Linked DNA regions of Homo sapiens. The protein of the gene in region 1 purifies or fractionates together with the protein of each later gene. This does not show direct contact. Each region holds a gene or a part of one and is shown on either strand. Other genes may lie near its edges.

The links.
Region 2: the proteins of PTPRH (region 1) and MON2 purify together in Homo sapiens (affinity purification with mass spectrometry, with the first as the bait; one large-scale study listed by BioGRID). This does not show direct contact.
Region 3: the proteins of PTPRH (region 1) and FAR1 purify together in Homo sapiens (affinity purification with mass spectrometry, with the first as the bait; one large-scale study listed by BioGRID). This does not show direct contact.
Region 4: the proteins of PTPRH (region 1) and UBE3C purify together in Homo sapiens (affinity purification with mass spectrometry, with the first as the bait; one large-scale study listed by BioGRID). This does not show direct contact.
Region 5: the proteins of PTPRH (region 1) and LMAN1 purify together in Homo sapiens (affinity purification with mass spectrometry, with the first as the bait; one large-scale study listed by BioGRID). This does not show direct contact.
Region 6: the proteins of PTPRH (region 1) and ATP2B1 purify together in Homo sapiens (affinity purification with mass spectrometry, with the first as the bait; one large-scale study listed by BioGRID). This does not show direct contact.
Region 7: the proteins of PTPRH (region 1) and LANCL1 purify together in Homo sapiens (affinity purification with mass spectrometry; one large-scale study listed by BioGRID and IntAct). This does not show direct contact.

Annotation. Positions count from the first base shown.
Region 1 is NC_000019.10:55,206,255-55,211,240, forward strand, and holds the start of PTPRH (receptor-type tyrosine-protein phosphatase H isoform 1 precursor), read right to left. Parts: upstream 3,248-4,986; 5' UTR 3,180-3,247; coding exon 3,129-3,179; intron 1,161-3,128; exon of another isoform or gene 1,042-1,160; coding exon of another isoform or gene 946-1,041; coding exon 912-945; exon of another isoform or gene 814-911; intron 723-813; coding exon of another isoform or gene 702-722; coding exon 435-701; intron 1-434. UniProt on the Homo sapiens protein: Protein phosphatase that may contribute to contact inhibition of cell growth and motility by mediating the dephosphorylation of focal adhesion-associated substrates and thus negatively regulating integrin-promoted signaling processes.
Region 2 is NC_000012.12:62,465,465-62,469,625, reverse strand, and holds the start of MON2 (protein MON2 homolog), read right to left. Parts: upstream 2,801-4,161; 5' UTR 2,419-2,800; coding exon 2,308-2,418; intron 1-2,307. UniProt on the Homo sapiens protein: Plays a role in regulating membrane trafficking of cargo proteins. Together with ATP9A and DOP1B, regulates SNX3 retromer-mediated endosomal sorting of WLS away from lysosomal degradation.
Region 3 is NC_000011.10:13,706,307-13,710,648, reverse strand, and holds part of FAR1 (fatty acyl-CoA reductase 1), read right to left. Parts: intron 2,750-4,342; coding exon 2,570-2,749; intron 1-2,569. UniProt on the Homo sapiens protein: Catalyzes the reduction of saturated and unsaturated C16 or C18 fatty acyl-CoA to fatty alcohols. It plays an essential role in the production of ether lipids/plasmalogens which synthesis requires fatty alcohols.
Region 4 is NC_000007.14:157,145,123-157,149,464, reverse strand, and holds part of UBE3C (ubiquitin-protein ligase E3C), read right to left. Parts: intron 1-4,342. UniProt on the Homo sapiens protein: E3 ubiquitin-protein ligase that specifically catalyzes 'Lys-29'- and 'Lys-48'-linked polyubiquitin chains.
Region 5 is NC_000018.10:59,341,902-59,346,243, forward strand, and holds part of LMAN1 (protein ERGIC-53 precursor), read right to left. Parts: intron 4,151-4,342; coding exon 4,018-4,150; intron 1-4,017. UniProt on the Homo sapiens protein: Mannose-specific lectin. May recognize sugar residues of glycoproteins, glycolipids, or glycosylphosphatidyl inositol anchors and may be involved in the sorting or recycling of proteins, lipids, or both.
Region 6 is NC_000012.12:89,614,464-89,618,805, forward strand, and holds part of ATP2B1 (plasma membrane calcium-transporting ATPase 1), read right to left. Parts: intron 2,577-4,342; coding exon 2,339-2,576; intron 1-2,338. UniProt on the Homo sapiens protein: Catalyzes the hydrolysis of ATP coupled with the transport of calcium from the cytoplasm to the extracellular space thereby maintaining intracellular calcium homeostasis.
Region 7 is NC_000002.12:210,455,698-210,460,039, forward strand, and holds part of LANCL1 (glutathione S-transferase LANCL1), read right to left. Parts: intron 1-4,342. UniProt on the Homo sapiens protein: Functions as a glutathione transferase. Catalyzes conjugation of the glutathione (GSH) to artificial substrates 1-chloro-2,4-dinitrobenzene (CDNB) and p-nitrophenyl acetate.

The DNA.
Region 1 (4,986 bases):
GATGGACTACATAAAATCTCTCATAGTAATTTAGTTTGTTTTTCTTTTCTTTTGTTTTCTTTTGTTTTCTTTTCTTTTTTTTTTTTTGAGACAGGGTTTCTCTCTGTTGCCCAGGCTGGAGTGCAGCGGTCCAATCAGAGCTCACTGCAACCTCTGCCTCCCGGGCTCAAGCGATCCTCTCACCTCAGCCTCCCGAGTAGATGGGACCACGGGAACACGCCACCACAGCTACTTTTTAATTTTTTTGTAGAGACAGGCTGACCAGTTTCTTTTTACTTATTTTTATGTGGCTGATAGAAAATTGAAATTCTCACGTGTGGCTTCCACTGTGTTTCTATCCAACTAAAGAACCTGTCGCATTTTGTCAGCTCTCAACCACCCCCTACCACTGTCCTTATAAAAGAAATAAAAATAAAGCAGTGGCTGCCTCTTACCTGTGGCAGTAGTGACAGTCCCCACAGAGCTATTTACTCCGTCTTTCTCCACCCACACAGAACACGTATACAATGACCCGGGTCCAAGGCCATCCACGGTGACGTTGGTGGCTGTTGTGTTTCGAGTCTCTGTTGTGCCGCCGTCTCCAGTACACTGAACCCAGTAGTTGGAGTTCTGTGAGTCTAGGCCATCGGGGACCTCCCAGCTCAGGGAGATGGAGCTGGTGGTCTGAGTCTCCACTGTCAGGTTCCTCCCTGGGTTGGGGGCTGAGAATTGGGAAGGAAGGTCTGACAAAAAGGGAACCAGGTCAGTACAATCCCTCCCAACCCCTGAGCTCACGCCCCAAGTCCAGAAACAACGGCGCTCATAAACCCCTACCATGGACCACTGGACCCCACGGGGACCCCCCAGAGGCTCACGGCAGTTGCGGTCCCACCTCTTCGAGTGGGCAGTGAGTTCAGGCAGGGGTCACTCACCAGGCGCCCTGGCCCCTGTCCAGCTGCACAGGCCCTGGAGGGAACCCAGAGAAAACGGAGTCAGCCTCTCAACCACTCCTCCGCCCAGTGAGGCCGAGGGGCTGGGAGGAGCGGCTGGTCCCCGCCCCATGAGTCACCCTTGCATGGGAAGGAGGGGCCGGTGTTAGGCTGGGCTGTCACGACCTCGACCGTCTTTCCTGGGTCGAGGAGAGAAGGGGGAGCATGGCAGGAGCAGAGCTTAGGGAGCTGGGGTTGGCTCCACCCGATAAGGCTGAGAGATAAAATTAATGATTTCATTTCCTGAAATATATGTCCTTGGAAAACCGAGGGCAGAGAGCAATGAACAGACTGGGAAGGGAGAAAAAAACCAAGGTTGGGGATCAGGAACCTTGGCCTGAGGGTGGAGGGCCTGGGGGCCTGGGGGCCTGGGTCTGAGGGAGGAGGGGCTGGGGGTCTCGACCTCTGGTTTGAGGGAGGAGAGGTTGGGGGCCTGGACTCCTGAGTCTGAGGGAGGAGGGGCTGGGGTCTGGACTCCTGGGTCTGAGGGAGGAGGGGCTGGGGGTCTCGACCTCTGGTTTGAGGGAGGAGAGGTTGGGGGCCTGGACTCCTGAGTCTGAGGGAGGAGGGGCTGGGGGTCTGGATTCCTGGGTCTGAGGGAGGAGGGGCTGGGGGTCTCGACCTCTGGTTTGAGGGAGGAGAGGTTGGGGGCCTGGACTCCTGAGTCTGAGGGAGGAGGGGCTGGGGTCTGGACTCCTGGGTCTGAGGGAGTAGGGGCTGGGGGTCTGGATTCCTGGGTCTGAGGGAGGAGGGGCTGGGGGTCTGGACTCCTGGGTCTGAGGGAGGAGGGGCTGGGGGTCTCGACCTCTGGTTTGAGGGAGGAGAGGTTGGGGGCCTGGACTCCTGAGTCTGAGGGAGGAGGGGCTGGGGTCTGGACTCCTGGGTCTGAGGGAGGAGGGCCTGGGGGCCTGGGGGCCTGGGTCTGAGGGAGGAGGGGCTGGGGGTCTCGACCTCTGGTTTGAGGGAGGAGAGGTTGGGGGCCTGGACTCCTGAGTCTGAGGGAGGAGGGGCTGGGGTCTGGACTCCTGGGTCTGAGGGAGGAGGGGCTGGGGGTCTGGATTCCTGGGTCTGAGGGAGGAGGGGCTGGGGGTCTGGACTCCTGGGTCTGAGGGAGGAGGGGCTGGGGGTCTCGACCTCTGGTTTGAGGGAGGAGAGGTTGGGGGCCTGGACTCCTGAGTCTGAGGGAGGAGGGGCTGGGGTCTGGACTCCTGGGTCTGAGGGAGGAGGGGCTGGGGGTCTGGACTCCTGGGCCTGAAGGAGGAGGGACTGGGGGTCTGGACCCCTGAGTCTGAGGGAAGAGGGGCTGGGGGTCTGGACTCCTGAGTCTGAGGGAGGAGGGGTTGGGGGCCTGGACTCTTGGTTTGAGGGAGGAAGGGCTGGGGGCCTGGACTCCCGGGTCTGAGGGAGGAGGGGCTGGGGTCTGGACTCCTGGGTCTGAGGGAGGAGGGGCTGGGGGCCTGGACTCCTGAGTCTGAGGGAGGAGGGGCTGGGGTCTGGACTCCTGGGTCTGAGGGAGGAGGGGCTGGGGGTCTGGACTCCTGGGCCTGAAGGAGGAGGGACTGGGGGTCTGGACCCCTGAGTCTGAGGGAAGAGGGGCTGGGGGTCTGGACTCCTGAGTCTGAGGGAGGAGGGGTTGGGGGCCTGGACTCTTGGTTTGAGGGAGGAAGGGCTGGGGGCCTGGACTCCCGGGTCTGAGGGAGGAGGGGCTGGGGTCTGGACTCCTGGGTCTGAGGGAGGAGGGGCTGGGGGCCTGGACTCCTGGGTCTGAGGGAGGAGGGGCTGGGGTCTGGACTCTTGGTTTGAGGGAGGAGGGGCTGCTTCCTGTCCGTGAGCACAGCTGTGTGTTGCCTGAAGCCAGTGTCCCCCGCAGCAGACACGACAGTGTCTAAGGGCCCGGGTGAAGCTGGTGTCCCCCACAACAGACACGACAATGTCTAAGGGCCCGGGTGAAGCTGGTGTCCCCCGCAGCAGACACGACAGTATCTAAGAGCCCAGGTGTAAGACTCTCCTACAGTCTCTGCCAAGCCTGAAGCCCTCTTCCTTCTCCAGGGGATCTTCAGCACCTACTTCCTCAAGATCGAGGTGCAGGCACCCAGCTCCTTCTCCCTCAGACCTGGGAGTCCCTGCCTTGGGAGCCCGCTCTGGGCGGGGAGCACTTACCAGCAGCACCAGGTTCCCCCAGACCCCGAGGCCCCCGCCAGCCCCAGCCATGCCTCCAGACACTGCCGGGGACCCAGGAGTCCCAGGCCTAGTCCTTCCACCTGCTGGACTTTACACTCAAGAATTTCCCCTTTACCAGATCATTGGTGAAGCCAGAGGCCAGGGCGGGAAGGGGAGGAGGAGGAAGTGGAACCCAGCTCCCAACCCTGCCCCGCTGGCCCTCACCTTCCTCCCTCACCGCTGCCTCTAGCTCTGACACTGGAGATGCCTCCCATCCTTTCTCCAGCCCCCAGCCCACTCCACTTTGTCCCCCGAAATCTCCCTCTGCACCCCAGGTACCGGGTGCCGCGCCCCACTGCTGCACGGATGCGGGACGTGGGGCAGAGGATGAGAGCAGGGGGTGCTGAGAGAAAGGCCAGCTGACTCCCTCGCCTCCCTGGTGGGTGATCACACATCAAGAGCAGCCTGGGGCTTAGACCTCATGCCCCTCGTCCCTGGAGCACGCTCTTCCATTCAGCCTCTGACGCCTTTCCCCTCTCCGTCTCCCACAAGCCCCTGCAGCTCTCACAAAATGAGCCCAGCGGGCTCCTGCCTCTTGGCCTTTGCCTAGACTGTCTCCCCCACCAGATGCACCTGCCTACTTTCCCCCTAACAGTCTCCTACCCACTGCTCCATTAGGATTCAGCTTGGAAATGACCCATGCCGGGCCTGGGGCCTTTCTAGCCTGGTCAGGACCCTGTGCACTGTCTTCCACACCCCAGACTCTCTAATTTGCATATCCATCTGTGACCCTGAGCAAATGACTTAAATCCACAGTGACTCAGATTCCTCATCTCTAAAGAATGGGCACCCTTGTAAATATGCTAAGAGAAATAGATGAGTTACTACGTGGAAAGTCTTGGAACAATGCCTGGCCCATTTTAAACAGTTGATAAATATTAGTCATGTTTATTTTTAGTTCATCCCTAGGCCACCTGTGCTCAGAAGGGGCCTGACACCCAGGGCTTTTCAAGGTGTTTTTGTTGACTTACTATGTGCACACGTGGACTGCCTTCATCTCACATATAGTGCGGAAATGAAGAATAGAAACCCCAGCCGGGCATATTGGTGTGTGCCCAGCTACTCAGGAGGCTGAAGTGGGAGGATCACTTGAGCCCAGGAGTTTGAGACCAGCCCGGGCAATATACAAAACCCCATCTTTACAAAGAAAAACAAAAAGAGAGAAAAAATTACCCAGGCATGGTAGTGCACGCCTGTAGTCCCAGCTACCGGGAGGCTGAGGTGGGAGGATCACCTGAGACTGGGAAGTCAAGGCTGCAGTAAGCTGCGATTGTGCCACTGCACTCCAGCCTGGGTGACAGAGTGAGCCCCTGTCTCAGAAAGCAAAACAATGGCCAGGCGCGGTGGCTCACACCTGTAATCCCAGCAATTTGGGAGGCCGAGGTGGGCAGATCACCTGAGATCAGGAGTTCGAGACCAGCCTGGCTAAGATGGTGAAACCCCATCTCTACTAAAATGCAAAAATTAGCTGGCTGTGGTGGCAGGCACCTGTACTCCCAGCTACTCAGGAGGCTGAGGCAGGAGAATGGTGTGAACCTGGGAGGCGGAGCTTGCAGTGAGTCAAGATAGCGCCACTGCACTCCAGCCTGGGTGACAGAGCAAGACTCTTTCTCAAAGAAAAAAAAAAAAAAAAAAAAAGCAAACAAAACAGCTGAGCATGGTTACTCACGCCTATAATCCCAGCACTTTGGGAGGCTGAGACGAGAGGATTCCTTGAGCCCAGGAGTTCAAGACCAGCCTGGGCAACATAGGGAGATCCCGTCTCTATAAAAAGTAGAAGTAAATTAGCCAGGCATGG
Region 2 (4,161 bases), on another chromosome or scaffold:
CTTCATCATAATTAGGCTAATGACTCTCTTTGTTTTAAACCTATGACACAGTCAAGATCATTTTTCAATTCCTAAAGTAGTGCCCAGTGTCATTGGGTAAGAAATCAAAAAGCTTTCATTCAACAAATTCTTATAAACACGTACCATATACAAAATTATGCATCAGAGATAATCACAAGAATTACTTTTGCTATTATCTCAAAGACTAGGTGCAATTACAAAATATCTCTCTAGCCAGTGTTCAAGTAAAAACCAATAAGCTTTTTTGTTAGTTTGTTTTGAGACAGGGTCTCCTTCTGTCTCCCAGGCTGGAGTACAGTGGCACAATCACCACTCACTGCAGCCTTGACCGCCTGGGCTCAAGGGATCCTCCAGCAGCTTCTGGCTGGGCATGGTGGTTCACACCTGTAATCCCAGCACTTTGGGAGCCAGAGGTGGGCAGATCGCTTGAACCCAGTTCAGGAGACCAGCCTGCCAAAACCCCGTCTCTACAAAAAAAAAAAAAAAAAAGGCGAAAAATTAGCCTGTCGTGGTGGTATGCACTTGTAGTCGCTGCAACTCAGGGGGCTGAGGTGGGAGAATCACCTGAGCCAGGGAGTTCGAGGTTGCAGATCGCACCACTGCACTCCAGCCTGGGCCACAGAGACCCCATTTCCAAAATCAAAAAACAAAACAAAAAAATGTAATAAATGGCAATTAAATTCCCAAGCTAGACCACAACAGCCTATAGAGGAACCACAGTTTTTGTATGAATTATTAGAACTGCGAAGTCAGTTCTACAAATTATTGTTGAAATTACAAAATAGTGTTTGATATTTTCTAAATGAGAGCATTTCTCTTATAATTAAAACAACTTAATTCTTTAAAATTCTCTAAAACAGCCTAATTCTTTAGATTTACTTGTTATAACTTTCAACAGAGGATATAAAAAAAATGAAAATCAATATCAAAACAGACTATTGACTATGTGAAATAAAACATATCGTAACAGCCATCTTTCCAAAAGTGGCACATCTGGTTTCCATCACTGGGTAATACTTTATTAAAGAAATACAAGATGGAGTTTGTTGAAAACTGATAAAACCAATGCACTTACAGAAAAGTCAATATTCCTTACAAGCCTAAAATCCAAAATTTATTGGTCAAGTTCTAATTACATAATCTTCATAATAATAAAGATATATTTAAATAAGTATGTAAATATGAAATCCCTCGGTGAATTTTTAGGGCAAAGAGTAAATGAAATTGCAGGTAAAACAAACTACATTAAATAGGAATAAAAATAAAAACAGCCGGGCGCTGTGGCTCACGCCTGTAATCCCAGCACTTTGGGAGGCCGAGGCAGGGGGATCATCTGAAGTCGGGAGTTCGAGACCCGCCTGACCAACATGGAGAAACCCTGTTTCTACTAAAAATACAAAATTAGCCGGGCCTGTTTTTGGTGGGTTTTTTTGTTTGTTTTTTTTTTTTAGAGAATTAAAATGGCATTTTAAGAGAAAAAGCAAATAGTAACCAAATGTTAAATATTTCACCTCAAGAACTATTTGGAGAATTAAATTTCCATGTATTATTTACTGGGATCTCTTTAATAATACCCTTCTGCTCTGACATCTTTCCCATACATAATATAAAACCATCCTTTAACCCTATTTTACAGCTGGAAAAAAAAACCCGAAGCTCAAAGAGGTTAAGATTTATTGCTGGAACTAAATTCAGGTGTATTCGCTCTGACTGCAAGCCCAACTTCCCACTACAGTACTGCTCATAACAAGGTTTAACATGATTATGTGGATCTTCAATATTCTTCATAAATTAGGTGGCTCTGGATAGTTTATTAACACGTCAAAGGATTGATACAGAGTTAAGCTGAATGATATATACCAGAAGGAAAATTGTTTCCAATTCAGTGATATGCCATAAACGTGAGGAGTACAGGTTTCAACAAGATGGGTGGATACTCGTTTCGGGGAGCAACAAACAAGTTTTTCAATTTTGGTTTGGCCAGTTTCAAGTAAGAAAAAGGCCAGAATAGGCTAGTGCACAGTACACCTAGCTGGATTAACTGAATAGGCTCACTTCATGAACTTCACTCCTAAACTGGGAGGACAGGAGAGGGGAGAAAATCAAAGTGCCTCAGCCCTCTCCAGTGGAAACTATAAAAAGCCCTTGTGGAACAACCCACCGACTCACAAATCTGGAAAGGTGAGGCCTGAATGAAAATTAGGACTGGAAACTGGGGTGAAGCACTGAGTCTAACAGGACCAGGCATGCTCACAGTGCCTTCTCCTGACGTCACCTGAAGCTTACCTCTTTGACAGGTGGGAATTTCTTCTTGCACTCCAGTGACAAGGCGCGCAAGTCGCTCTGCATATTCTCCAGCAGCTTCTTCACCGCCTCGGGGCTGCTGGTGCCGGACATGATCCTCCAAGGTCCCAGCCAATTTCCGAGAGGTACAAACAAGCTCTGGCACGGTCAGCTCCTTAGGGCCACAGGCAGCTCCCTCCCGGTGTCTCTGGTCCTTCAGCAGCCCGCTTCTTGGGCCCTGGGCTGCGAACCCGGAGCCTGCTCGAGCGTCCCCCAGCAGCTTCCCCGCAACACCTCTGGCTTTTCTCGGAGGCGCCCCCCGCAGTCGCACCGTCCCGCTAGGCTCCGCCGACTCTGGCCGAGAAACCCACAAGGCGGGCAGGTCCCTCCGCTGCCGCGGGGCCCAGCCACACCGGGTGTCACCAGCCAACCTGGCAAGAAGCTTCAGCGCCAGCTCCCCAGGCCCCTAAGACTCGCCGACGCCATTAGCCGAGTCGCCCACAATTCCGAGCGCTGCCGGGACACGTCAGCCGCACTTCCGGGTACCGTGGCCTCCGCCACCGCCGCGGCCAACCCCGGCGGCAGGCCGTCGGCGGGGCGGGGCTGGGGCTTGGCCATGCTCGGGGCAGGCGGGATTCCGGGTGGGCAGCGATTCCCACAGCCCCACCCCCGGAATCAAGTAGGCTAGACAGGGTTTAAGGCGTCAAGATTCGCTTCGTTTTCATTAACAAGTGCCTGAACAGAGCCCCCGAGTACTCCTTGGCATATCTCTTTGCGTATGTTTGTGTTAAATTGTATTTCGGTGTAAATAATTTGTTTCCCTGTAGATTAATCTTAACGTGTCTCCTCCCGCTTCATTTCGAATCTCTGGACTAGTGGCCCCAAATCAGTGGCTACCTCCTGTTAATATACATTTTTTTTCTTTAAACGCAACTGGTGCACTTACTGTGGGGTAGCCTCTTATTTTCCTAATCTCTAAAATGAGACTACCCTCTGCTCCACGCATTCCGCTGGCCTCCCATCTCACTCAAAGTAAAAGCCAAAATTCCTCCAATCACCTACCAGGCGCTACGAGATCTGTCCCGGCCCCTTTACTGGCAGATGCTCCCAGCTAAAAGGAGAGTTTCGCGAGTTGGGCTGCCGGTTCTTCCTCTTTTTAAATCTTATTTTGTTTCCTGTGTATCTCCAGCACCTAGAACAGTGTCTGGCATATAGCAGGTAATCAGTACATACTTGTTGAATGAATACCCTTCTATTATAAAATCAGAGTTTCGAGGCTCAAATAAGGCACAGATACATAAAAGCCTTCATCAGGTCTGAAGTGCCAAATAAATATGAGGCAAAAGCCAAACAGAAAAATCTTCATCTGTATTTCCCCAAGATCCAGGTTGGTCTACTTTTTCCCCAAGACATTTTGCAGCTGCTGGTCAGAAAGCAGAAAATGAGGGAGGAAAAACCAGAAACAGTAGAGATGAAGAAACCAACACCTTCAGACAGCTGAGCTTATGACATGATGGAAGACAGTGAGCCATGAGATTGTCAGTGGATAGCGCTGTTTGGCTGTAACAGAGCTACTTTGTAAGCTAAATAATTTTATTTTATTTTTCCTTCTGATAAGAAGCAAAGCAAGGATGGATAAAGGGGACAGATGAGGTAATAGTAGAGAGCTCCTAGGGCAGTAATTTTGATCATTTGTGCCTATTACACAACTTCTGGGAAACTTGACACCTCCTATGGTATAAGCTTTATGTATGAAAACTGGTGAATTTAGCAAAAAAGTTCAAATGGAATATATGGCAGACATTATTCTTGAGGTCTCAGGGAGCTTGTAAAAACGAGGCGCTTTTTTTGGGTGGG
Region 3 (4,342 bases), on another chromosome or scaffold:
ATAAAATAAAAAGCTACTTAATTGAACTTCGCACATTCAAACATATCTGCTGTTCTGACTCAAATCATTTGACAACTTTTACTGAAAAATGGAACTTAGTCTTATTTTTCTTAAACATCAACTACAGGTCCACAATCCCTTATCTGCAATTTCTGTATCCAAAAAGATCTGAAAACTAAGAGTTCTTTCATAAATCATACAGTGGATAGCAAAATCTGATCTACACTGACTTATGGTCTTTTTTTTGATACAACTTAAACATTCATATATTTTACATGTATTTGATCAGGGATACTAACCCAGATCAAGTTAAAGTTTTTTCTTATTACACAGTACATAAATTATATACCCTCTCTAAAGTCCAAATAAATTCCAAAATATATCTGAAACCTTCTGGAAGTTTGCAGGTTAGGAAATACAGATCTGTATATAACCACCTAATGAAGTAACATGTTAATTATATACAGTTATAATTAACATACATTTATAATGAACACAAAAGGCATAAAAGGCCTAGTATTTAAGGTGCAGCACTGCAAATCATATGCTCTAATGAGATTAACAAATGCTATGATGAACAATAAAAATAAATTGAAGCATGCTATAAAAATTCAATTAGCAACCTACTATGAAGTCAAAAAAATTCCTCCAGTTCTCTTTGAAGAAATGGTCTACTCTGTTCATCTGTAAAAGGAGGGCGATATACTAGGTGGTGTCCATGGTTTTTCCTAAACTTCTGATTCTAATACATTATGTACTTGTTTTTACTTCTTGTCAATAATGCTGTGTATGCAAGTAGACTCAGTATATTGTCATACTCTAATGATACCCATACTAATTGATAAGAAAGCATAAAACAGAGATTATCAAGATAAAATTTTCTTCTGTATATGGAAGTACTTTTTGTATATGAAAGGAAAAGAACATCAATTAAATTGAAGGGAAATTGCTACCCAACTTAGGAAAAATTCCACCATGGAGATGAGATTTGAAAAATGAAAGGGATAGTTGATACATGAGGAAAAAAAAACCTGCCTAAACTCAGGAGAAACTTTAGCTAGTAAGCCTTATTACTAGAACGAGTTTACAGAACAAACCCATGAGTTATCTTAAAATTATGTTAGCTAGATTTCTTTGCAGCAAGGAAAGGAGATACAGCATTAGCTTACAAGTTCTTTTTCAGTTTCTCAAATGTTTGTATATATTGTTAGTAAGAGAAAAAGTAAAATGCTCCATTAACTTTCACACTCAACTTTTCCCGCAGATATTAAATATTTCTGTTTATTGATCTATGAAGAAAATGAAGTAGATATTTGGGACCATCTAAGAAAATGAGTGAGAAAATAGAAATTAGGGAATTACAATGAAAATGTCTTGGTAATTTCTCATTTTTTTTACAATCTATCTGTTTCCTCATATTAGCAGGAAAGCCTTAAAGAAAAGACTGTGCTTATTTTAGGAGAAAGCAGCAGATGTTAACTAAGCAGTCAAAGTGGATAGAATCTCTGGAAAGAAAGAAGACTAAAAGAGGGAAGAATAAAGGAGGAAAAAATTCAAAGATATTATATAAGGATTAACAAACATGAAAATATGGTGGATACTGGAATGTTTATATAATTGTAAAAGTAAAAAAGATCTCTCTTTTTCTTGTCTGAACCTTGTCTGTTTGATGAGAAAGCCTGAGCTGCAGCAAATGAGAATAAGGTCATGGTATATACTCCCTCATTTAATCCCTATCTATCAATACTCACAAATAATTTTCATGTAACAATTGCTGACAGGATCTCAGTCCTCAGAAAGATAAAAAGTAAGGTTATGAATTAAAAGACTATGATTCCTCTGATTCTCTAATAATTAAAGGCCCCTCTATATATATACTCCATGGCTGGGGGGTGGTGAGGGGAATCCTTTGATAAATTAGAGCCTTGCTATTAAACAGGCAGTCATGGGTCTCCATTGGTACTTCTTGGTTGCTAAGATTGATTCCCTGAAAAAGAGAGCCCCTAATATCACTAATAAGATGTTCAGGAGCCTTCCTCCAAATATTACCATTATACTTGGTCAAAAGTGAAAACTACACATTGACTTCATTAACATTTATTTAGATATTAATCTATACAATAAGAATGCAGGGGATATGCAAAAATTTTTGAAGAAAAGAGATAAATGTATGTGTGTGTGTGTGTGTGTGTGTGTGTGTGCGCGCGCGCGCGCACATGTATATGGGGTGGGGTGAGGAGAAGAGGGAGGGACTTGAATCCAAAGGTTTTTTTTTTGTTTTTTGTTTTTTTGAGACAGAGTTTCACTGTGTTGCCCAGGTTGGAGTGCAGTGGCGCCATCTCGGCTCACTGCAACCTCTGGGATTCAAGCAACTCTCCTGCTTCAGCCTCCTAAGTAGCTGGGACTACAGGCGCCTGCCACCATGCCTGGCTAATTTTTTTCGTATTTTTAGTGAGATGGGGTTTCACTATGTTGGCCTGGCTGCTCTTGAACTCCTGACCTCATGATCCGCCCGCCTTGGCCTCTTTTGGGATCAAAGTAAATGTATATAAATTTCAAACAAACATACTCTAAAGAATCAATCAGCTTCTTGGGATCCACAGGTGGTGGATAGACTACTTCATCAATATGCTTGCGATTACAGTAGGCATATGCTGTTGATACATGCATGAACACTTCCAGATTCTTCATTTGTTGTGCAAGGAGAATAAGCTGTCGCGTTGCAATCACATTTAACTGAACAGCATCTCTGTTTAAAAAGAAAAAGTGACAATAGAAAATTGGGAAGCTATGTTATTTTACCTGTTAAAAATATCATTTTCATTAGAGAAGTAGAGAGACAGAGAAATTTTTGTTTCTTTACAACTTATCCTTTAGCTGTGATTTTGTGTATTTTATTTCCATATTAAATGTTTATCAGCTGTGTTAAAAAAATTTGATTATAAAATAACCTGCCTTGTAGCCCTTAAAAATTAAAGTAGAAATTTAAAAATTATATAATTGTCCAGGAACAAACAGATAATTTCAGTCTTTAGCTTTTATGCATACATTTTTAAGTCATGCTAGACTTATTTTGCATCTTGATTTTTAAAAGTATAATCTTGCATAATATGGATGTGCCACAGGGAGAAAAAAATAGAATGGTTAAGTAATTTTAAAATGTTAACGTAGAGTCACTAATAAGGGTGATACAGCCAGAGAAAACTCAGAAACATTAAATTATATTAACATATAATCAAGAAAGAAGATGTTTATTTTCCTCTTTGTAGCAATCAATCCAAACACTTTTCTAAGGCTACCCTACAAAATTCAAAGGGATATTATAATAAAACTGGTACATCTGTTACAAGGCATATGCAAGACCCCAAAATAATCTATATATTCCCTTCTTGGAATTTACTTGAAGTAAATAATTCCACAAAAGCAAAAGTATATATGCAGAAAAGTTATCAATGAAGCATCATGTAATTAATAAAAACCTAGAGAGCCCAAATATTCACTATGGAATATGGAATGACTCAATAAAGTAAGTATTTTATCACAATGAAAGAATATAGCTACTAAAATAATTATTTGAAGTCTATAAAAATATGAAACATTTGTATGAATAATACCAAAAGAATACATACGATTTTTTTGAAGCAGGATTAAAAACAAGGCTCTGGAATCAGACCTGTGTTCAAATCCTGACTTGGCCTACTTATCAGGACATAAACTGAAGCACTCAGGCCTCAGTTTTCTTACCTGGAAATGGGAACAATAATGAAACCTACCTACTAAGACTGGTATAAAATTAAACAAATAGCTTGCAAACATTTAGCAGTATTTCTAACATAGTCACCAAACAGGCAGTCAACAAATATTCCTTAAGGTAATGAGATGGTGGATAGATTTGCTTTCTATTAAACTTCTGTTTACAGCTTTTAAAAAACTGACCAAGAGATCTATTGTACAACATAGACTATAGTTAATATCAATATATTGTTATTTTTAAAAATTACAAAAAGAGTGGATTTTAGGTATTCTCACCACAAAAAGTATGTGAGATAATGAATATGCTAATTAGCTCATTTGACCATTACAATATATACATATTTCAAAACATGTTGTAAATGAAAAATATATATACCTTTGTCAATTAAAAAAATAAAAACAAACAAACGAAAAGATTTAAATACTCAATATTAGTGACAAAAATGGCAAAGTAATACACTGTTGTTGATACTACAAACTGACACAAATGATTTGAAGGAAACTAGGACAAAGTACCAGGAATTACAGAAATGGTATATTTATTAATCTAGTTAACCTGTTGAAATTAACTCAGAGGAAAAACTTGTTC
Region 4 (4,342 bases), on another chromosome or scaffold:
TAGGCCCAGATTTAATGTCCAAAGAAAATGAGACAATGAGACAATTAGTCTCAAGTCTCACTCCTTCCATTCCGCTTGGTTTCTATTTTTAAAAATCGGTTGAATTCCTGGCCAGGCATAGTGGCTCACGCCTGTAATCCCAGCACTTTGGGAGGCTGAGGTGGGTGGATCACCTGAGGTCAGGAATTCGAGACCAGCCTGACCAAGATGGTGAAACCCATCTCTACTAAAAATAGAAAAATTAGCTGGGTGTGGTGGCAGGCACCTGTAATCCCAGCTACTCCGGAGGCAGAGGCAGGAGAATTGCTTGAACCTGGCAGGCGGAGGTTGCAGTGAGCCGAGATTGAGCCATTGCACTCCAGCCTGGGCGACAAGAGCAAAACTCTATCTCAAAAAACAAAAAAAGAATTCTTAACCTTATCTATAGCAGGGAACTACAGTCTTTTGCTCCTACATGTAAAGGATACAGCATAACTGTATTCGAAGGAACAAATGCAGTGTTGCTAAATAATACCAGTCCTGACAGTCAATTAACATTTTCAGAGCCAGGCTGGGGTTGGGTAGTGGCAAGCCTGGAGTTCCAGCTCCTCAGGAGGCTGAGGCAGGAGAATCGCTGGAGATCAGGAGTTTGAGGCTGCTGTGCACTATGATCATGCCTGTGAATAGCTACTGCACTCCAGCCTGGGCGACACAGTGAGGCCCTGTCTCTTAAAGGAAAAAAAAAAAAAAAAAAGAACTAATTTGATCTTAGAAAATATTTTGACTTTATTTGATGCCAGATCTGTAAGAAAAAGTTTTTATGTTCCACTACAATGTATATGGAGCATTATACTATCACATCCATTACACCTCTGCTTTTTAAAACAAAATAGCACAAAACATTTTAAGTTAAAATATTCTAGGTAATCCCTTCAATTATATAATAGAGGGCAGTTTTACAAAACTAGGTAATCCCTTCAATTATATAATAGAGGGCAGTTTTACAAAACTAAGCAATCAAGTTCTTACCATCTTAACAGTCTAGACCTATCATAGGGGAGGAATTAAAACTAGAGTAATTGAGGCCAAGCATGGTGGCTCACACCTGTAATCCCAGCACATTGGGAAGCTGAGGTGGGCAGATCACTTGAGGCCAGGAGTTCAAGGCCAGTATGGACAACATGGCGAAACCCCATCTCTACTAAAAATACAAAAAAATTAGCCAGGCCTGGTGGTGGGCGCCTGTAAGCCCAGCTACTTGGGAGGCTGAGACAGGAGAATCACTTGAATTCGGGAGATGGAGGTGGCAGTGAGATCGCACCACTGTACTCCAGGCACTCCAGCCTAGGCGACAGAGGGAGACTCTGTCTCAAAAAAACAAAATAAAACAAAAAAACTATAGTAATTGGTTTTGGTAGGCCCTAGAGTATCCTCATTCCATAAGGCCAGTATCACCCTAATACCAAACCAGACAAAGACATCACAAAAACACCCTAAATTGATGTCCCTCATCAAAAGAGATGCAAAAATCCTGAACAAAATATCAACAAGCTCAATCTAACATCGTATACAAAGAATTATGCATCACAGTCAAGTGGGATTTATTCCAGATACGCAAGACGGGCTCAATATTCTAAAATGACTTAATGTGATCCATCATATCCACAAGCTGCAGAAGGAAAATCACATAACATTAACAGATACAGAAAAAGCATCTGACAAAACCCAACCTTCATTCATGATAAAATTCTGCAAACTAGGAATAGAGGGGAATTTCCCCAATTTGATAAAGAATATCTACCAAAAAACCCACCAAACATCATACTTCATGATGAGAAACTCAAAGCTTTCCCACTAAGATTAAGAACAAGGCAAGTTCTCACCACTCCTTTTCAACTATAATCCTACCTAATGCAGTAAGACAATAAAACACATTGCTTTCTGATGGTCTTAGAAAAGAAAAAAGAAAAAAAAGGCATACAGATCAGGAAGGAAGAAATAAAACTGTCTTTGGTTGCAAATGAAATGATTATCTGTGCAGGAAATTCCAAGTATCAACCAAAAAACCACTCCTGGAACTAAGAAGTGATTATAGCAAGATTTCAGGACATAAGGTTAGTACATGAAAGTCAATTGCTTCTCTACAAATAAGCAATGAACTGGAATTTGAAACTGAAACACAATACCATTCACATTAGCACCCCTTAAAAATAAACGCTTAGGTATAAATCTAACAAAATAGGTATAAGGTATATATAAGGAAAATTATATAACCAATGAAAGAAATAAAAGAACTAAACAAATTAAGAGATATTCCATATTCATGGATAGGAAGGCTCAACACTGTCAAGATTTTAGTTTTTCCCAACTTGATCTACCAATTCAGCACAATCCCAATCAAAATTCCACAGGTTTTTTTTGTGAATATCAACAAACTGACTCTTATGGAGAGGCAAAAGATCCACAATAGCCAACACAATACTAAAGAAGAAGGAAGTCGAAGGACTCACACTACCAGACTTCAATGCTTACTATGGTTGGGCGCGGTGTCTCACTCCCGTAACCCCAGCACTTTGGGAGGCTGAGGCAGGCGGATCACTTCAGGTCAGGAGTTCAAGACCAGCCTGGCCAACATGGTGAAATCCAGTTTCTACTAAAAATACAAAAATTAACCAGGTGTGGTGGCACATGCCCACCCAGCTACTCAGGATGCTGAGGCAGAAGAACCACTTGAACCCAGAAGGCAGAGTTTGCAGTGAGCCGAGGTCACAACACTGCACTCCAGCCTGGGCAACAGGAGGCTCCCTCTCAAATTAAAAAAAAGTTTAGTTTAATATATATACTAAGTAGTACAGTTTACTACAGATCTGTTACAGTAATCAAGATGGTATGGTATTGACAAAAGGGAGAGAGATCAATGGAGGAGAGAATAAAGCCATAACAGAGCTTAGAAACAGATCGTAAAGGCCGGACGCAGGGGCTCATGCCTGTAATCCCAGCACTTTGGGACGCCCAGGCGGGCAGATCACGAGGTCAGGAGTTCGAGACCAGCCTGACCAACATGGTGAAACCCCCGTCTGTACTAGAGTAGCCAGGTGTGGTGGTGCACACCTGTAATCCTAGCTACTCGGTAGGCTGAGGCCGGAGAACTGCTTGACAGAGGTTGCAGTGAGCCGAGATTGCGCCACTGCACTCCAGCCTGGGAGACAGAGCGAGACTTCGTCTCAAAAAAAAAAAAGAAATAGATCCATAAAAATATAGCCAACTGATCTTTGACAAAGGAGCAAAGGCAGGCATTCAATGGAGTTGGGGAATGTCTTTTCAGAAATGGTGCTAACTGGACATCCACAAACAAAAAAACTTCAAAAATTAAAAATCTAGACACAGATTTTATATCCTTCACATAAATTAACTCAAAATGGATCAGAGACCTAAATGTAAAATACAAAATTATAAAACTACTAGAAAATACGAGAAAATCTAGGTTACCTTGGCTTTGGTAATGACTTTTTAGACACAACGCGAGAAGCAAGATCCATGAAAAAAACACTGGTGAGCTGGACTTCATTAAAATTCAATAGTTCTCCAATGTCACAAATGTACCACACAGATACAAGATGTAAATAACAAAGGAAACAGCGTGCAGCGGAGAGGAGGTTTTGAGGACTCTATTATAGTTTCCCATCAATTATTCTGTAAACCGTAAACCACTCTAAAAAAAAAGCTTATTAATTGATAAAAAATAAAGTAAAAAGAAATGAACTGTCAAGCCATGAAAAGAGCCTTAAATGCATAGTACTAAGTGAAAGAAACCAATCTGAAAAGATTACATAGTATATGATTCCAACTATATGACATTCTGGAAAAGGCTAGAGTAGAAACAGTAAAAAGATCAGTGGTTGCCAGGTGTTACAGGGATGGGAGGGATGGATGAATATGCAATGAGGATTTCTTCCTTTTTTCTTTTTTAAAAGAGTATCACTCTCGTCACCTAGGCTGGAGTGCAATGGCGTGATCTCAGCTAACTGCAATCTCTGCCTCTCGGGTTCAAGCAATTCTCCTGCCTCAGCCTCCTGAGTAGCTGCAATTACAGGCACCTGTCACCACGCCTGGCTAATTTTTGTATTTTTAGTAGAGATAGAGTATCACCATGTTGACCAGGCTGGTCTCGAACTCTTGACTCCAGGTGATACACCCTCCTTGGCCTTCCAAAGTGCCGGGCCTCCTCCTTTTTTCTTTTTTTTGGAGACAGAGTCATGCTCTGTCACCCAGGCTGGAATGCGCTGGCACAATCCAGGCTCACTGCAACCTCCACCTCCAGGGCTCAAGTAATTCTCCTGCCTCAGCCTCCCACGCCCAGCTA
Region 5 (4,342 bases), on another chromosome or scaffold:
TTGAAAAGATAAACAAAATTGATAAACCACTAGCTAGACTAGGCAAGAAAAGAAGAGAGACGATCCAAATAAACACAATCAGAAAAGAAGGAGACATTACAACAGATTCCACAAATACACAAAAGATCGTCAGAAACTATTTGAACACCTATATGCTCACAAACTAGAAAACCTAGAGGAAATGGATAAGTTCCTGGAAACACACAACTTTCTGAGACTGAAACAGGAAGAAACAGAACTCCTGAACAGATCAATAATGAGTAGCAAGACTGAATCAGTAGTAAAAAAAAAAATCTCTTAACAACAGCCGGGACTAGATGGACTTATAGCTGAATTCTATCAAACATATCAAGAAGAACCAATTCTCCTGAAATTATTCCAAAACACTGAGGAGAGAATTCCCCCTAACTCATCCTATGAGGGCGGTATCACCCTGATACCAAAACCAGACAAGGACACAAAAAAATAGAAAACTACAGACCCATATCCCTGATGAACAAAGATGCAAAAATCCTCTACAGAATACCAGCAAAATGAATCCTACAGCACATCAAAAAGATAATACAGCACGATCAAGGTGGGATTTATCCCAGGGATGCAAGGAGGGTTCAACATATAAAAATCCATATATATGATACACCACATAAACAGAATTAAGAACAAAACACATGATCATTTCAACAGACTCAGAAAGGACATTCAATAAAATTCATCATCCCTTCATGATAAAAATCCTCAATGAACACACCTCAACATTAGGCCACATATGACAAACCCACAGCCAACCTCACACTTAACAGGGAAAAGTTGAAAACATTCCCTTTAAGAACTGGAACAAGACAAGGATGCCACTTTTATCACTCTTACGTGTAATAACATAATACTAGAAGTCTTCACCAGAGCAATCAGGCAAGAGAAAAAAATAAAAGGCATCCAAACTGGAAATGAGTAAGTAACATTATCCCTGTTTGCTAATGATATGATCTTATATCTCAAAAATCCTAATGACTCCACCAAAAAACTCTTAGATTTGATAAATGAATTCAGTAATGTTTCAAGATAAAAAATTAATGTACAGAAATCGGTAGCATTTTCATATACTGATAATGATCTAGCAGACCAAATCTAGAAGGCAATTCCATTTACAACAGCTAAAAAAAAAAAAAAACACCTAGAAATATATTTAACCAAGAAGGGGAAAGCTCTCCATAAGGAGAACTTCAAAACAACGATGAGAGAAATGGTAGATGACACAAACAAATGGAAAAGTATCCCATGCTCATGAATTGGAAGAATCAATATTGTTAAAATGACCATACTGCCCAAAACTATCTACTAGTTCTAGACACTCCCAATCAAATTACCAATGTCATTTTTCACAGAATTAGAAAAAAAAAATCCTAAAACTCATATGGAAAAAAAAGGGAGCCCAAATAGCCAAAGCAATGCTAAGCAAAAGGAATAAATCTGGAGGCATCACATTACCTGACTTCAAATTATACTACAAGGCTAAAGTAACCAAACCAGCATAATACTGGTATAAAAACAGACACATAAGTCAGTGGAACAGAACAGAGGACCAGGAAATAAACCCACATACCTACAATCAACTGATCCTCAACAAAGTCAACAAAAATAAACACTGGGGAAAGGACATCCTATTCAATAAACGGTGCAGAAAAAATTGAATAGCTATATATAGAAGAATGCAAGTGGACCCATACTTCTCACCATATGCAAAAATTAACTCAAGATGGATTAAAGACCTAAACATAACACATGAAACCATACAAATCCTAAAAGAAAACTGAGGAAAGACTCTTCTGCATATTGGCCTAGGTAAAGAACTTAGACCAAGTCCTCAAAGGCAAACACAAGAAAAACAAAAATAGACAAATGGGACTTAAACTAAAAAGCTTCTACACAGCAAAAGAAACAATCAACACAATAATCTAACCTACAGAATGGGAAAAAATATTTGCAAACTATGCATCCAACGAAGGGCTAATATCCAGAATCTACAAGGAACTCAAACAACTCAAGAGAAAAACAAAAAGCCCATTAAAAAACTGGGCAAAGAGCATGAACAGACATTTTTCAAAAGAAGACACGCAAGTGGCCAACAAATAAATGAAGAAATGCTCAACATCACTAATCATCAAAAAAATCCAAATTAAAACCACAATGAGATACTATCTTACACAAGTCACAATGGCCATTATTAAAAAGTCAAAAGACAACAGATGTTGTCAAGATGTGGAGAAGAGGGAATGCTTATATGCTGTTGGTGGGAATGTAAATTAGTACAACCTTCATGGAAAACAGTATGGAGAATTCTCAAAGAACTAAAATTAGAATTACCGTTTGATCCAGCAATCCCACTACTGGGTGTTTACCCAAAGGGAAAGAAATCATTATATCAAAAAGATACTTGCACTTATACGTTTATTGCAGCCCTATTTACAATAGCAAAGATATGGAATCAACCTAAATGCCCATCAACAGAGAACTTGATAAAGAAAATGTGGCGTGTGTGTGTGTATATATGTATGTATATACTATAGACTACTACTCAGCCATAAAATAAGAATGAAATTATGTCTTTTGCAGCAACATGGATGGAACTGGAAGTGATTATCCCAAGTGAAATGACTTAGAAAGTCAAATACCATACATTCTCACTTATAAGTAAAAGCTAAACAATGGGTACACATGGACAAATGGAGTGGAATAACGGACACTGGAGACTACAAAAGGTGGGAGGGGAATGAAGGTTGAAAATTACCCACTGAGTACCAGGTTCATTAGGGTGAGAGTACACTAAAACCCCAGACTTCACCACTATATGACACAAGCATATAAGAAATCTGCACTTGTACTCTTCCTAAATACATAAAAAGTTAAATAAAATTAAAATGGAAAAATATTTCTCTTTCATTACACTGTGTGATTCTACTTATAAGAATAGGCAGAACTAATCTACAGTGATAACAATAAGAATAGTGATGGGCTCTGTGGAGAAGGTTGTTGACTTTAAGGAGGCATGAGGGAACTTTCTGGGATGATAAAAATGTTCCGTGTACTGATCGGGGTGATGGTTAAATGGGTATACACATTTGTCAAAATTTACTAAACAATACTTTTCAAACACTAAAGTCAGCTTCAGGATATACTCACAAATTTTATGTGATGATGTTTAAAACAAATTCAAAATAAGAATGACCTTTATGTTTCATTTTTAAATTCATTAAGTCTGACTCATACTGTTGATCATTAAGAGAACTGCATACTACATAGAGTTCAAATGCTAGCCACAGCCTTTATTAAGTACACCTTTGATCACTTATGCTGACTGGGAACAATTCAGATAAAAAGCTAGCAGATAATATAAATTCCCTCAATTTGGCCTTAAAATGTTTTATTTTTGACATTAGCACACTCACGTTCTTAATAACATTGGGTTAGACTAGTATTTTATAATTTTCAAGTATACAGTCCAGGATTCTATCGAGTAGTATGGGGAGGAGAAGCAGATATGTCACATTACTTTCACAACAGTTTTGATAGATTTTAAGGATTATCTCCACACTATAAGGTAATTATGTGTCACTAAAACCAAAAATATACACTTTTGATGATTTCAGTCAAAAAATATTTACTGAACCTGAACTACTAGGTTAGCATTGTTTTGGATTTATTTTTAGGCTTAGTGGTCACAGCAATGAATATTAACAAAATCCCTGTCCTCATGGAGCTTTCACTCTAGCGGTCCCATTCCTCCAAATAACCATGGTACTCTTTATTTCATACATGACTAAGCCACATTCTCACTGGTAAAAATGCCAATCTCTTGACTCTTAAAGACTAAAGATTTGCTCCTAAATTGTTTCCAGAAATCACTTGGAATGTGCCTGTTCAGAGAGCAGGGATGAGCTAGGCAACACAGAGACTCAAGCGTCCATGATCAACAGCCTCAAGCCCTGCTGCGGCACCCATGTCAGCTTTGCTACAACTCACCAGGCTGCCCTTGGAGGTCGGGGTGGCCCTTCTGGAATTCCTCTTTTTTTTTATCCAATTCTTGTTGAAAGTGCTCAAATTCCTCCTGATACTTTTCTTTTTCCTTTTCCGAAATTTCTTTATCTGGTGTGGGCTTTTTTTTGGAGTTTTGGAATAGATCATTAAAAAGATAAGAAAATCATTAAGATATCTCTATACATGTTATTTTTCTCATTTTAACTCTTCTACCACTAGCGGAAAGGTTAACATAAAAATGTATTCCTTCTTTACTTAAACGATAGCAAATTACTCTTTTTTTTTTTTTTTTTTTTTTTTTTTAGAGACA
Region 6 (4,342 bases), on another chromosome or scaffold:
TTTATCTTAATCTCTCAACAGGCTGCTGTTTCTGGTTCTCTTATTACATTGGTAACCCTCTATCAGCCACCAAGTTACAGACTGGTTCTCTAACTTGTACAGAGATGGTTAGCGACCATCTCCTTTATAAGACTTCTAATTGTGGCAACCTCTTAGTCATAAAAGCCTTCTTCCCTAGCTACACACTTTCTCTAAATATCTTTAGTTTCATCAGTGATTTCTTCAGACTAGCCCACTTTCAGGCTCTGAGGTCCAAATGCTTGACATACATTTGGATGTCTCAGACACCTCAACAATGTCAAAAACAGCGTATCCAAACCCAACATATTACTTCCTACTGGTTCTATCTCCACTTACTTTGAAATCATTCTTTTCTTTCCATCTCCTATGCCACAACTGTGGGCCAAGCCATGATCATCTCTTGCCTGGGATCACTGCAATAATCTCATTAGCTTCCCTGCTTCTACTCTTCTTCATCTCTAATCCCTGTCTTACACGTACCCAAAATAGTATTTTAACAACATAAATCATGTCACTTCCCAGCCTGAATTTCAGAAAATTCAGAGTCCTCACAGCCCAGTAAGGCCAGAGATCATCTCGTCTCCCCTTTCTTCTTTACATTTATAGCCACACTGGCCTCTTTTCCACCTTTAAAATAGCTACTTTTCTCACTTTCACTTGCATTTCTCGTTTTGCTTGGAATGCTCTTCTTGCAGCTATTTACATGGCAGACCCACTATGAACCATCAGATTGCAACTCAAATGCCACATCCTCAGAAATTCTTAATGCAGTCTCTCTCCATTACTTTATTTCATTACACCGTGCATATCTTATATAGCCCTTCTGCACTTGTAATTGTCTTATTTAATATCATCCCCCCTGATATGCCACCCTGCCACCCAGAATATCTTAAGGCCTATGAGAACAGGGACCAAGTCTTATTCCTCCCAGAATTCATTTTTCACTTGACATGGTGTCCATGTATCTATCATTCTACCTACTTAGCTGTCTTCTTCCTCTAGAATATAAATCTCAAGCCTATTCTGGTCACTGCAGTATTTCCAGCTCCTAAAAGAGTGCTACACATTAGGTTTTGAATCAATTAGCTGATAAAGTCACTGAACAAAAGTGGTTTTCTGTTAGTGCTTTTATTTATGTTGCTTCTTTGCTCAGAATATACCTAACTGCTCGCTCTCTTTCTTGGTTTAGATAATACTTCCTCCTTCTTTAAGAATCAGATCAGGTAATTAACCTCTAGGAAGTCTTACCTGACCCCTCCAGTGGTCAATACAGTACAGTAGTCTTTTAAGCACATGTGTTTTAGACAAAGCTGGTATTTTAACACACTAGGTCTATGCTCTATACATTCTCGATTTTTTAAAAATGTATTTTTAAACATGTCTAACGCTCTATACATTTTTGATTCTTAAAAATCTGCCAAATAAGAGTAATAATATGCATACCTCATAAAGGTAGACATTTAAAAAAATTACTTGTAAAACACATGGCTTAAGTATATGGCACACAGTGAGAACTCAATAAAAAGATGCTATTAGGCTAGGTTGGGAACTCGTGTTCTCTGCTCATATAACATGCTCTGTATATACCCAGCAAGGTAGTAATATCTTGGGTTGCAATAATCACGTGTTTGGTTCGTCCCACATAAGACAGTAACTTCTTTGAGGCCGGTGATCAGATCTCAAAACTCTTAAGTCTCTAGTACCTTAGGATAGTGCCTGGCACACAGTAGTTGTTCAACAAACTTAAAAAAGGTGAAAAACCAAATAGCAAAAAAAAATTAAAGAGGGAAATCAGTCTAGAGCTGCATGCCATCCAATATGACAACTACTAGCAAGATATTTTAATTTGAATTAAATAAAATTTAAAAATCCTGTCTTTTAGTTGCACTAGCCACTGAAAACTAGAAGTCAGTATTCACACATGGCTAGTGGCTACTGTACTAAACAATATACAGAACATTCCTATTATCACAGAAAGCTCTACTAGACAATGCTAGTCTAGAGACTGTGAAAACAAATAATGGCACCTATTATTTAATTTAAGATAAATAATAACTGAAAATTCTACCCACTTCAAGGCACTGTGCTAGGTTATGGTGCTATGAACACATAGGATCCCAAAGAGACACTGTCTTTAAAAACCATAAAAGCTAGCATATGCACTGTAGGTACTATTATTTCATTTATCTTGGGTTCACACAGAAAAAAAAAAAATCACAAACACCAAGAATTTTACTAGAAAACTGGTTACAATTAAGGCCTAGGTCCTCTATAGTTATGAGATTCTGCACATGCAGAACACAGAATGTTTCACCACCTCAGGTCTCACAGGATCTTCAATCCCCACAACAGCAATGCATGTAAGGCCGGTGACAATATCATTTTCATTATCCCACTCTGGTTCTGGTTCTCCTGCTGGAAAATCTCTGAATGCAAGACATATGGTTCTCAAGCCTTCTGATGCCATCGGTTCAATCACAGTTTTTACAATATCATCACGGTCCCTTGGTCTGAATACTTTTGCCTCACCATTAGCACTCAAGATTTTGAAACACCTAAAAGGAAATGTTGAATCCAAACATCAATAATTTAAAAAAATAATGGTTAATGCCATTTAAGTGAACTGGCAGGCCTAGAAATCATGGGATCTGATATCTGGAATTTAGAGAATTACATATAATTCATTTTTATAGACTTAAATTCACTTTTCACCCTCCCTTTTACAAAACAGAACTAATATGTATGGTTCTCATTTGACAGTTCTCCATTTATCAATTACTCTAGAACTTCTCTAAACCTTGTCTTTTGGAAATGCAGTGCTTTCAAACTTTCATAAAGAATCCCTGGGTGGCAAAGGAGAATAAACTATATACTTCACCATTTTGGTACAGAATCAGACATTAGTTTGAAATAATACCAAAATCACAAATGTTTTCTTCTTTTAAGGTAAAAAGCCAAGCGTAGTCAACCCCTTACCTGAGATGTTGTTTCATCACCTATATTGTTTTAACCATGAAAGAAAAAAAATAACTTATTGTTAAAATAAGCATTCTATCAGAATGAGAGTTAATGCCAAAAGTTATTTTCAGTGACACTACTACCTTTTCTTTCATTACATAATGAATAAAAATCATACTATATACCTATTTAAAGTTTGTTTTTCATAATGCCTCTCTATACTCCTCTCCCTTGATGATGCCATCTCTTCCTGCTTCTAGGGAGGTAATTCCCAAATCCACATCTTCTGTTTTGTTTTTCAAAGCTTTCCATCACTGCTGAAAAATTCTACCCAGATGTTTTATCAGTACCTAAACCTTAATGGATGAAAGACTGGAAGCTGCCTCTTCACTGCCCATGTAATGTGCATCAACATTACCCTAATCATTTTGATGTAAGTCTAAAATTTCACCTTAATACTTATTTTTCCTGATCATCTCTCTACTATTAGCTCCTAAGTCCTATACATTTCTCCTCTGAACAGCCTCCTCAATGTGTCCACTCCTTTTTATTTCTCCTGCTACTACTTTCTTCTGGTTCTTACTTCAAGCTACAAAGCTACAGCTATTGTAATAGCAATAGCCTTTTAACTGATATGTCTCTAGTTGATTTTTTTTTTCCCTCTAACCCACCTTGTTCCCTGATGCAAGAATTATCTTTAATCACAGCTTTGATGATTCTACTACTTGAAGAAAAAAATACCTCATTTGCATTATCTGGCTTACTTCAATTTTAACTGCTCAGCCCAACATTTAAAAAGTCTCCACAACAAAATGCAAATATTACTGTGGGAACACTTGCTGTATGTTTACTGTCCACCAGGCTTCACACTAGACAGTTGGTATGCATTACTTCATTTAAGTGCCACAGAGTTGGTGGTCATCACCCGCTTTCTCAGATGAGAAAAATGGAAGTAAGGGAAAAATCTGCCCCATATCCAGAAGCTAGTTAGTTGCAGAGAAAGAGTCAATGCCTGATCAGTTTTGACTAAAAAAAATTCTCTCCTAAACCATCTATCTACTACCCAGCAAGCCAGGGTTGAAACAGATTTCTAACCTTTTCAATGAAATCAGGTAACTGAGTGTACTGTGGCAAGAAGAAAGCTGTATATGGCCTGTGTGCCACAAAAGCCCATCACTATTCAGCTGAACTATACAACCAGATATTCCCCTCCCCAGTATGACCTGCATATTCTCATCTCCTTTCCTCTGCTGTGGTTTCCCCACCTCGAAGTTCTCATTTCATACCAAAATCTATCTTAAATGCCACATCCCTACAGTGTGATCTCTCACCCAAAAACTTTGTACCAATTTATTATATGCTG
Region 7 (4,342 bases), on another chromosome or scaffold:
ACCAATAATTATTTAATAAGAAAGGGTTTGTTGTGAACTAAAGAAATTCAAAGACCAGGGAATGAAAATTTCAATTTCTCTTTACGTAAAAGTTTGTTTTGTGTGTGTGTGTGTTTTTTTTTTTTTTTTTGTGAAAAGGTAGTTAATGTAACCAAATCCCCTGCCCCAGTATCCTTCCAGGCAGGGATTATAAGAAAGTTATTTGATAGCTGAGAAAAAATATTCAACCCCTAGATTTTTTTCTGTCGAGGGCCCACCTACTTTGGTAAATGTAATGTAAAAGCCACCAATGACTTTTGCCTTGGGCTCTACTTGATCAGTTTCTTACCCTACTCTTGAAGCCTGAAATATGTAATAGAGGCATTGTCTGCATGTCCTTATTTCAAATGCCTGTCACAGTGGAAAGAGCCTTCCCTCTGAAGCTAACTGGTCTCAGGGCAGACTCAAAGATGTGGAGTAGGAAGCCTGCCTGCCTGCCTGCAGCATATCCAGAAACCCATTTTTTCCCTTGAAGTACATTTTCCATCTCATTTGCGATTTTTAGAAGACACAGAACCTCTGTTTAAATTTAAATTAATAGAGCCAATCTTCACGGATTTCAATGCAGTAAAAATGCTGTCTGCAAAATTACTTTCCCTGTACTGAGGACAATTTTAAATTTAGATAGTTTTCTCATTTTGCATGGGTAATCTCCAAAGCTTTGTGCTACAGACAATTCAATTTCACATGTATATTAAGGCCAAATTTTCATTTCCTGCCAAAGTTAATAACCTTGACTGCTCTTTCAAAGTGGCTTGGTGTTAGTAATCCCACAAGCTGATGATCAGATGCATCAATGCTTAAGGTTTGTAGACAAGTGTACAAAACCTTGTGTGTAGGTAAGAAAAAAAAAAAAACCCTTTTCACAAATGATTGATGTCAAGAGCTTCTTCTAAAATTAGGTCCTTAATAGGCTTCATCTCCATCCATATCACGCATCTGCAGGTGATCCATTTAAATTGTTAACCTTTCATTTTGCCCTCCTATTCCCATTGCTGCCTGAACTCTCCTAGTTAAGTTATGTAAGCACCAAAGCCAGATAATGACATGATGGAGATCTGAGAAAATAAAAAGTGATTAAACACAAGCCCAGTGATTGTTTTTCTTTCAGATCTTTGTCTCTCATTAGCAACAATTCCTCTTGGCTTAACTATTTAACAAACAAAACCTATTAAGGCTTGCAATTGTAAGATTTGGTGTATTTCTCATGAAAAACAGGTAATCATTTCTCAAGTCTCACAAGAGTACATTTGGATTAAAACTTTCTTTTTGATAGGCAGAGAATTATCTTTCTAGTTTCTGGGATTCCACAATCTCATGTTCCAGTTCTCCCCTACCTCTCATTTGGGCCTCTGGGTCTGTGGATTTTGATAAGCAATCTTCTGCAGATGATAGTTTACTGTGTCTACATTCCCTGTCACAGAACATCCATGGTGGAAAAGGACTTTAAGTGGTGAGTGCTGCTGCCAATTAGAAAAAGTTTCCTGCACATGCTTATTATAAATCAGCCCAGGTCAGGAAAATAAGACAAAATGTATTATGTCACAGACATTTAATACCTCATCAGTATTTTATATAATAGAAAATAATAGAATGTGTCCTAATGACAGAAAAAAGGGAGGACTGCTTGTGGCCAAATGTCTTAAACCTGATCTTTATGGTCCTCAACTGTTGACAATAACCATGCATACACCACCACCTTTGAATCAATACCAAAGACTCAGGGATGGTTGGCAAGGTGGGAAATAAAAACACAACTTCACGGGCTTTGCAGGGAAAATTCACCCAGTCCTAATACATACTTGTGGGCCTGGCTTCAGTCAATGCCTAGAAATGCCTTCAAATGCAATGTTTATCAAAATATATATGTTCTTCATGGAAAAAATTATACAGTACTGAAAGATTTAATATGCAAAACACCAGTCCTCTGGTTTACTGTGTTCCTGCCTTCCAGAGGCAACCATTTTCATCAGTTTCAGCCATTTTCTCTAGTATCTGTCTATTTCTAATAATATGCTTATGTGCTATCTGTTAAGTTTTCTATGTCAGATATTTCTGACTCATATTCTACTCTAGAAAATGAGGAGTTAGCTCTTGTGATGGAGAGTAAGTGGTTTTCCAAATGTATCTTGCCTTTCTCTCAACAATAATGCCCTGGATTTTAGCTGGGCACAGGCTGCTAAGAACAATTTTCTTCACAGCCGGGTATGGCTATGTGGCGAAGTTCTGAACAACAGGATGCAGTGGGAGTAGTGGAGGCAACTTTGGAAAATGTTCTTGAAGGGAAGGCACTGGCGATTTATTTCCTTTTCTACTTTCTTCCTGGCTGGAATACAGATGTGATGGTGCAGCTAGAGCAGTCATCGTCTAAGGACCATGAGTTGGAAGCTCTGTGCTGAGGGTGGTAAAGTTTCAAAGATCAAAGCCACCTAATCCTGGAGGACTGTGAAGCTGCCACACCAGTCCATGGATTGCCTACTTACATAAGAGAAAAATAAACTTCGGTTCTGTTAAAGCCACTGTTATTTTAGATGTATTGCCATGTCCTGGTAGGCCTAATCCTAAGGAAGACAGCTCTTCTCAAAGCTAGAGAGGCAGGCAGAAGCTAGATTACACAGAGTCTAGCAGGCCAGTTAGGATTTGGAGTTTCATTTGAAATGCACCCATTTTAAGCGTGGGAAGAATATACTTAGATTTGTTTTGTTAAAAGTTCACCATAACTGCACTGTAAGGTTTGCAAGGGAGTGTATGAAACAGTGGATGCAGGAGGAACAGTTAGGAGGATGCTTCAGGAGTAGGAGCGAGACACAGGGTGGGTGGTGCAATACAGATCTTGTCAGAATGAACTGGAAAGATACCTGTCTAGAAAGTAAAATCAGCAGAACCTGGTGGGGGATGGCGGAGAAGAAGATGTCAAAATGCCTCCCGATGACTAACTTCAACAGCTAAATGGAAAATGGTGCCATCCACTGAGATGGCAAACCCCTCTGTTGGAGAATCAGGTTTGGGAGGAAAGAGTACAGTTGTATCCATTAATAAATTCATTCCCAAATATGATTCTATTCTCTGAAGGACACTTAATGAGAAAAAACATTTCTACTGACTTCTAACATAACAGCCAAAATTGTTCGAGTTTTGACAAAGAATGATGTAGGCAGTTTCATCTTTTTAATATTTTCTTTCATCTTTTTATCAAAGAATATGCATCTACTTTAAAATGTGACAAAAGCCGGTTTTAGCCAAGTGTATTCTTGGGCTTAAATTTGAATATCACATTACATTTCCTTTTGTGCTGTCTGCTAAGCAAAAAATAGAGTGGAGACATGCTTCCTTCCCTTCATCTTCTCTTCTAGACCAGAAAAAACTTGAATGAGATTTAAATTTTGATTGAACTTAATTGTAAAAATCTGCTCTAAACTGATCTAGAGTTTAGAATTATTTTATATTTAATAAATGGTGTTACTAAATGTCATATTCGTAAGTATGACTATTATGTATATCCACAAGCAGAAGAATGAAATTTGAACCTCATTTTATACTATATACAAAAGTCAACTCAAAATGGACTAAAGACTTAGACTTAAGACCAGAAACTGTAAAACAACTAGAAGAAAACATAGAAGAAAATCTACACATCCAGATGTATAGTACTTTGAATTACTACTCCTGCAACCTGCCTGGTTCATCTAGAAGTGCAGTGTCCAGTATGATACCCTCTAACCATAAATGTCTACAGTAATATAAGTTAATTAAAAGTAAACACAATTTAAAATTCAATCTTAGTCATGCTAGCCACATTTAGAATGTTCAATAGCCACATGTGGCTAGTGGCTGTCGCGATGGAAATAACAACATTTCCATTACTGCAGAACATTCCAAGGAGAGTACTGCTCTGAAGACCAGGAATAGATGTCATTCCGTACAAGAAGTTCAGGAAGTCTGGCACTGCCTGTCAGTTTACCCTAAGAATTTCTTGGTCTTGAAATGTTGATAACTATTAAAAACAAACAAACAAACAAACAAACAAACAAACAAACATGCTGTGAGGACCAAATAAAATTCCTGTTGTAATAGGAATCAGTCCTGGCTTCAGCACGAAAGCTGTGAACTAGATTTTTTTTTTTTTCCTGTAGCTACTACCCTGGGGATGGGAGGGTAAATTATTTAGGGACACTTCTAAATCTGCAATTTCCTTACTCAGGAACTTATGCCAAGCAGTACTATAAATACAGCCAGCTGTTGAGAAGTAATTAATACTAAGCCTTTGAATTTCTGACGGATCATTAGTCCTATTCATTTTGGC